Linked DNA regions of Homo sapiens. The protein of the gene in region 2 purifies or fractionates together with the protein of the main gene of each other region. This does not show direct contact. Each region holds a gene or a part of one and is shown on either strand. Other genes may lie near its edges.

Region 1 (3,749 bases), on a different chromosome or scaffold from region 2:
ATCACTTTTTGTCAAACCCAAACAAACTAGAGAGCCTGAGGGAGAAAGCTCATGCTTGCAAGTCTGAGATAAAGATCGGTCTCAAGAAGGAACTAAAATAACCACCCAAGAAATTCTTTCTTTAGGAATGCAGTAATTCAGATAAGATAAGATAAGATAATCTTTTTTCCTTTTTTTTTTTTTTTTTTTTTTGAGACAGGGTTCTTGCTCTGTCACCCAGGCTGGAGTGTAGTGGTGCAAACACCACTCACCACAGCCTCCATCTCCTGGGCTCAAGCAATTCCCCTGCCTCAACCTCCCGACACACCTGACTATTTAAAAAGCTTTTTCTGTAAAGACAGCCATGTTGCTCAGGCTGGTCTCCAACTCTTGGCCTCAAGCGATCCTCCTGCCTAAGCCTCCTAAGTAGCTGAGATAACAGGCATGAGGCAGGTTGCCAGGCCTGATAAGATGCTCTCCATAACACCTGCCCAGTAATGGCATCTTCAACAATGGCCAACTCTGGCTTTCAGTCTGCAAAACCAATAAACTCTGTTTTCACGCAGCTTATCTGCACTTACTTTGCCAATAAAAGTTTCCTTTTACCCTCCCCTCTTCCATGCATATATGGCTTGCCAGGCCTGTGCACCTCGGGCTATAACGCTCATTTCTCATTCCCAAATAAATTCAACACATTTGGAGTGTTTTGTTGTTGTTGTTATTGTTAACATCTTAAAGGCCATTAGGGGCCCTAAAAACATCAAAGCTCACTTTAGCTAAAAGGCTCAATCTCACCTAACATTTTCTAATGCTGCAAACAGATTTAAGTTTTTAACCGCTGCCCCTGCCTCCACTCCTTTCAAATAGATGTGTGCAAATTAATTTGCAGCCAATAGGAATTTAGCCCAGAATGTGGTAGTATCATCCTCAGTGGAACCGACATTGTCCTTCTGGGTTTCCAAAGGCTTCTGCCTTCCTTTAAGAAACACTTGTCGCGCACCTACCAATAGCCAGACCCTAAATGCAGTCGAAAAATAAGGCCCTGAAAGGGGCACCCTCTAAATGGCAGAGGCAAGCCAGTAAACAACCAACTGGAATTCAAAGTGACAAGAGCCACTTGGAAATATGACAAAGTGCCAAGTGAAGGGGTGTTCACTTAATTCGGCCTGCGTGCGGGACGGCTGGGGCGCTTTGGAGAGTGGGAGTGATCTGAAAATGCTTTCCTGAGCTTGATTTAAAAGCAGGAGTCCAGGAATTTCCCCTAAGGCTGGAAGCACTTTCCGACAGAACCTCCCCATCTACGCAGCAAGGCTGGCAGAGCCCAGGGCCTGACCGCTGGCTTGGGAACCTCCGCTACGGGATGACCAGGCGCCGCGACGCGGCCGGGCCCAAGTCGCCCCCTCAGCCCGGCTCTGAGCACCCCCTCCTCTTTGTCCCCTCACCCCGTTCCCTCCTTCCACGGCCACCGATGGAGGGAAAGACTCCGCCCAGCTCTGGGAGCGAAACAGGGGCACCGATCTGGGCGCAAAATAGGATCCGTGCCACCCCCGAATACCAGTGGGCCGAGATTCGAGGCCCGAAAGGCCTGGGGAGGCGGGGCGGCGCCCCTCCCTGCCCGCGGCCTCGGCGAGCCCTGCGCGGCGGGGCGGGGACCACCGTGGGGTCACCCGGGCCCGACGCAGGAGGACGGCGCCCCCGCCCCGCCTCCCGGGTCAGCGCGGACGCACGCCGCGGGCGCCCCATCCTCGCCGCGGCCCCTCTGAGCGCCCGGCGGCGCCCTCCACCTCCGGCTCCCACCCACTCCAGGCGGGCGGGCGGGGAGAGCGCGGGGGCAGGGCAGGCAGGCCCGGGAAGCCCCGAGGGAGCTGCCCCCGGCCGGCCTCCAGGCGCGGGGACACCCAGGGGCGAGCGCGCACTGCACAGCCGGGACCTCACGCTTTACCTGGTGCGCTGGAGGAGCAGGTGGGAGCCCGGGTCGGGCGGGCTCGGTGTCGGCCCTGCCTCACCTGGGCGGAAGTGAGAGGCCCAGGGTGACCGCGCCTCACCTGGCAGGCCCTCCCCTCGCCCCGACTCTCCCCGCCCGGGGCGGGGCACCGGGGTGGCGCAGGGGGCGGGGGAGGGAGCCCGGGGCCGCGGGAGGCGGGCTCCAAGGAGGGAGGACGGTTGCCCTGGCTGTTTACGTGCAGGTGAATTCCTACCGGGCGCGGGATGGCCAAGGGCCTGGGAAAAGTGGGCTGTGGGGGCGGGGTGGCGGATCAGACCGCGCGTGGTGGGGACAGCCGCCACTGACGGGGAGGGAGATCCGGACAGACCGGTGTGGTTGGAGGCCTGCGTGTAGAGCGAGACCCAAGATCAAGGAAATTGAGGAGGATATCGATGAAAGCGTTGGGTCAATCCGCTTAACACTTTGTCTTTTTGCCCCTTTCCTTTCCTGTTCTCTCATCCCTCCTTTGTTTTCTCTATTCGCTGACGCAAAATAAAATATTCTAAAACGTGTAAATGTGGGAGTCATTATTTTCTTCTCATTTAGTGGAAGAAAGAAATCCAGCAGTATTTGCCTGCTGTATGCTAGGTGCTAGCTTATGCAATGTCTCATTTACTCTCTGAAGAAACTAATGAGGAAACCGTGCACCCTGTAGGTTGACTGGCCCAAAGTTTGGAACACAGGCAAGGCATTTTGACTCTAACTACAGTGATGATTTCACTATACGTTAATTTTCTTTTATTTGTGATGTCACACCTTCGAGAAAAATATGTCCCGATAGCCTTCTTCCACTCCCTTTAATAACTTTAGGCTTTTGATGATAGGGGTTTTACTTTGCCTGATACAGTCCACACATTAACGATAAAGAGAATCAATCTTCAGGTATCTTATTCATAGAGTACATACAGTAATTGTTAAACACTGTGATTGATTGTGGGAAGATGTGTAAAATGGTATCCCTGTCCCCAGGAAGATGAGGAATAGATACAAAACAACTACAACATAAAGACTTTCAGGCGGGGCGCGGTGGCTCACGCTTGTAATCCCAGTACTTTGGAAGGCCGAGGCGGGTGGATCACCCGAGGTCAGGAGTTCGAGACCAGCCTGACCAATATGATGAAACCCCGTCTCTACTACAAATACAAAAATTAGCCGGGTGTGGTGGATGCGTAGTCCCCTCTACGCAGGAGGCTGAGGCAGGAGAATCACTTGAACCCAGGAGGCAGAGGTTGCAGTGAGCCAAGATCCTGCCACTGCACTCCAGCCTGGGTGACAGAGAGAGACCCCGCCTCAAAAACAACAACAACAACAACAACAACAATTAGCCCGGAGTGGTGCCGTGAGCTTGTAGTCCCAGCTACTCTGTGGGGCTGAAGTCGGAGGATCACTTGAGCCCAGGGGTTCAAGACCAGCCTGGGCGACAGAGCAAGACTCCATCTCAAATAAATAAATAAATAAATAAAATTAAGATCATGCACTTGGTGCTTTGTAGTTTGCTTCCTTGTTTTAAAAGAAATGTAACACTTGTTAGTCATGGTAAGAAGACACACAATATCAGCATGGTTTCTGCTTTTTAGGAACTAACAAACTACTGAGGGAAATAACAGGCAAATTGCCAGATGGAAGCCAGACCTCAGAAAATGAAGAGATCTATTATGTTTTTTGAAAGCATGGGTTAGAACTTAAACAGGTCTTAACCAGAGTCTGAGATTAATTTAGGTAAAATGGAGAAGGAAAGGCTTTCCAAGTCGGGGGCAAAATAAAGTTGGAGATTGAGTGGGAAAAG
Region 2 (3,749 bases):
CCAAACTTACTTGGCCACAGAGCCTTTTTTGCATATGACAACATTAACACTCCTCAGAGCTTCAATAGAACATACTTTCAGAAAAACTAACATAAACCATTAAGTGCTACAGGGGTCTGGAGAAGAGAGCAATACAGATTAGAGGAGTAAGTAAAGGTGTTGTGTGTGAAATGGGTTTGAAGTGGCTCCTAAGGATGATTTAACATCTAGATAATCAGAGAGGAGGGGTAGTGTGGATTCTAGAAAGCATCAAAGCCAGGAGCTGGATGAATACAGGCACAAAAGCCTTGCTAAACACTTTCAGAATAGAAGCAGTTAGTGAAAGAGTTGGTAGCTAAAGAACAGCTTCATTTCCCTGCCAATTCATGCACTCTGGCAGTTGTCAACTCTAGGGCAATGGTTGCCAGGTAAGCCACAGGAGAAATGCTTCCGTAATTACCCCTGTGAGGCAGGTATTTCTTAGCTCCTGCAAGACCCCTGCAACTATTCTTTTTTTTTTTTTTTTTTTTTTTTTTTGAGACGGAGTCTTGCTCTGTCACCCAGGCTGGAGTGCAGTGGTGTGATCTTGGCTCACTGCAACCTCCGCCTCCCGGGTTCAAATGATTCTCCTGCCTCAGTCTCCCGAGTAGCTGGGATTACAGGTGCATACCACCACATGTGGCTAATTTTTATATTTTTAGTAGAGACAGGGTTTCACCATGTTGGCCAGGCTGGTCTTGAACTTATGACCTCACGTGATCTGGCTACCTCGGCCTCCCAAAGTGCTGGGATTACAGGTTTAAGCCACCGCACCTGGCCTTCTGCAACTATTCTAACAAAGTAAGTGAGCCCCACCTCCTAGTCTTTCCCACCTGGTTTCCTGAGCCCCATAACACTTAAGGTGGACCAAAAACTCTTAGAGAAAAGATGAAGACAAACACTGAATTACATGTAGACATCTCTCAAAATTAAGGACACTAATCTATAAGGAGAGAGATGTTCTAACAGGGTTGTCAGTTTGTCCTGCCAATTAAGATCAACATGCTAACATAAGTCATGTTATCAGAGTTTTATTCAAATAGAGCTAATATATCCAATTTATGATTTTTTTTTTTTTTTTTTGAGAAGAGGTCTCATTCTGTCACCCAAACTGGAGTGCAGTGGTGTGATCACCGGGGCTCAATCCATCCTCCCACCTCAGCCTCCTGAGTAGCTGGGACTACAGGCATGTACCATGACAGCTGACTTATTTTTGTATGTTTTTTTATAGAGATGGGGTTTCACCATGTTGCCCAGACTGGTCTTGAACTCCTGGGCTCAAACAATACACCCACTTTGGCCTCCCAAAATGCTGGAATTAGAGGCATGAGCCACTGCACCCGGCCAATCCATGATATATATTTTTTTAAACTAGGAAAAGACAAGTTACAAATCACCGTATAGAGACAAAGCAGGATCAATTTAATTCAAATTTACAGGATTTTAATTGGTTTTCTTCTGAATCATCTTTGCTTACAATACCTTATGAGACCTGGTGATAACATATCCCACTGTTAAGTCAGGTTACTAAGAGGAATAAAGAATACCAACCTGTATCCATCTCATCCACACTGTTCAGGAAGTCATCTGGGGTTCGAGGGACACTGTAGCTGCTCATGCTTAGTCCACTGTCTGTACTCTCATCTCGAGAGTGATAGGTGCCACTACATAAACATGACAGTTAAAGACCAACACAAAAAATTTTAAAAATCAATTCAAGGTAAAAATAAACACCTGCTGAGCAGCAACATAATTCTCAAAGAGGATTAGTGAAAATTCCTGTCCTGCAATGTCTGAAACAAGCACCCTCCCTCAGGGCCATAGACAGGGCTTGTGCTATGAAGTGAAATAGACAAGTTAATCCTAATTGAAGCTGGCAGCTCTAAGGAACCAAGATTTCTCCTAAGGTTCTGTGCTTGGTGACAATAAGGGACAAAAAAAGATACCCCCAGTTAGTTTTCCTGGCTGACAGAAAATTCTCTGCATCAGTATTCTCCTCTCTGTAATATCATTTGAATCTGGGGGTGCGGAGGAACCCATACAACTTACTTGTCCCAAGGCCTCAATTCTCCAGGTGGTGGTGGCACAGAGACGTCACAACACAAACTCCAGGTGGGCGAGGAGACAGGTCTGCACTAGACTCAAGTTAAATTCCTAGCTATTGTGCAGAGAACATAAGCCAAGGAAAAATCAACCCCAAATAAACCACCAGAATTCCTTTTAGGACTGAGCCAAAATAGGTGAGTCACTGCCAATAAGATAAGAATACTCGTGGCTTGATCTCCTTGCTTCTGTGTTTGGGCGGGGGAGGAAAAAGCCTCAAACACTTCAGTACGAAACGAAACGGGAAATCATATAGCTCCAGTTAAAGAAAAGAGCAAAACAAAAAACTGCAAGGCACATCCCTTGAAAATAAAATGACCCAACACAGATTTTCACTTTAGACTAAGTAAGGTTTCCCAGATTTACATTAAAAGTATGGTAAATATCCATTACCCTGAGAAATAGAACACTTTCCTAAGCTAGTAGCATCTAGACATCAGCTGGCATTCCCTGAGTTCTACTAACTCTACAAAATCTTAGAGAAACGCATAAAATCAAGGCAGCTGTTATTCTTCAATGGTCTGTGTGAGTGTGAACTTCAACTTTCTCTACGGCTTGTACATTTAATAAGCAGCTATTTAACTTACATAAAAGTTAAAAAATAAAAACAAGTTTAACAATTGCTCAAGGCTAAAAGCTCAGTCAATACCCCAACTGCCTTCCCTAAATGATGCAATGCATTTGCCTTGTTCTCTCTCTCCCCTCATTCTATATACTGCCATCACTGGTTTACTCTAATGCTTCTGCCAGATTTTGCCAAGGCTCAAAAGCCTCACACAGATCCAAGAAAACACACATTTGCCTCTGAGACCATTGGTATACAATGCAGCCATATATGAGAAGGCCTCAGGATGTGGTTTGTTTGTATTTTGCCTGCCCTGATCTGGGACAAGAGCCTGGTCCTAGTCATCACTCTATTCGGCTGCTAAGCATGGGACACACATCAGACATTTTAGTCTATTACTGAATAACTGAACTTACAGAGTTGCGCAGAGTTCATTCCAAACCACAGGGGAAGCACATGGGCATTCCTGAGGACAGAGTTTACAGGGCCATTTTCCTGGTGAGGAACTGCTCCCTGCAGAACCCCACTTCCTACAGGCCCCACTCATTCAGTAAACATTCACTGAGCATCTGCTACTACATGACAGGCATTAGACTAGGCTTTGAGGATAAAGAGGTTAACAATCACCACCACCTACAAACAATGTTTTGTGAGAGGCTCACAACTTCAAGGAGGGAAATGAACAAATATACTAATGAATCATATTTAGGGGCTATATGAACTCAGATGTAAGCACAGTGCTTTCAGAACAAACAGGGAGCTTAGAAGTAAAGGGTAAAAGTTTCATGGAGGGGGACATCTGAGTGAGCTTTGAGGGTAAAAGTAAAAGGGAACTAAGGGAACTCAGCATTACTACTAAGAGTCAATGCCAAGGCAAGTTGGGGCAAAAAGTATTTAGAGCTTAAGGAATATACATAAATCAAATAGTAAACAAGGGAAAAACCATCAAGAGGTTTTTTTGTTTGTCTTTTTGTTTTTTGAGACCAAGTTTCACTCTTGTTGCCCAGGCTGGAGTGCAACGGCATGATCTCGGCTCACCGCAACCTCTGCCTCCCGGGTTCAA

What was found.
Region 1: the proteins of YAP1 (region 2) and PATJ purify together in Homo sapiens (affinity purification with mass spectrometry; 7 studies listed by BioGRID and IntAct, with this or other methods). This does not show direct contact.

What each region holds. Positions count from the first base shown.
Region 1 is NC_000001.11:61,740,728-61,744,476, reverse strand, and holds the start of PATJ (inaD-like protein), read right to left. Parts: upstream 1,998-3,749; 5' UTR 1,922-1,997; exon of another isoform or gene 1,693-1,921; intron 1-1,692.
Region 2 is NC_000011.10:102,225,402-102,229,150, reverse strand, and holds part of YAP1 (transcriptional coactivator YAP1), read right to left. Parts: intron 1,683-3,749; coding exon 1,570-1,682; intron 1-1,569. UniProt on the Homo sapiens protein: Transcriptional regulator with dual roles as a coactivator and corepressor. Critical downstream regulatory target in the Hippo signaling pathway, crucial for organ size control and tumor suppression by restricting proliferation and promoting apoptosis.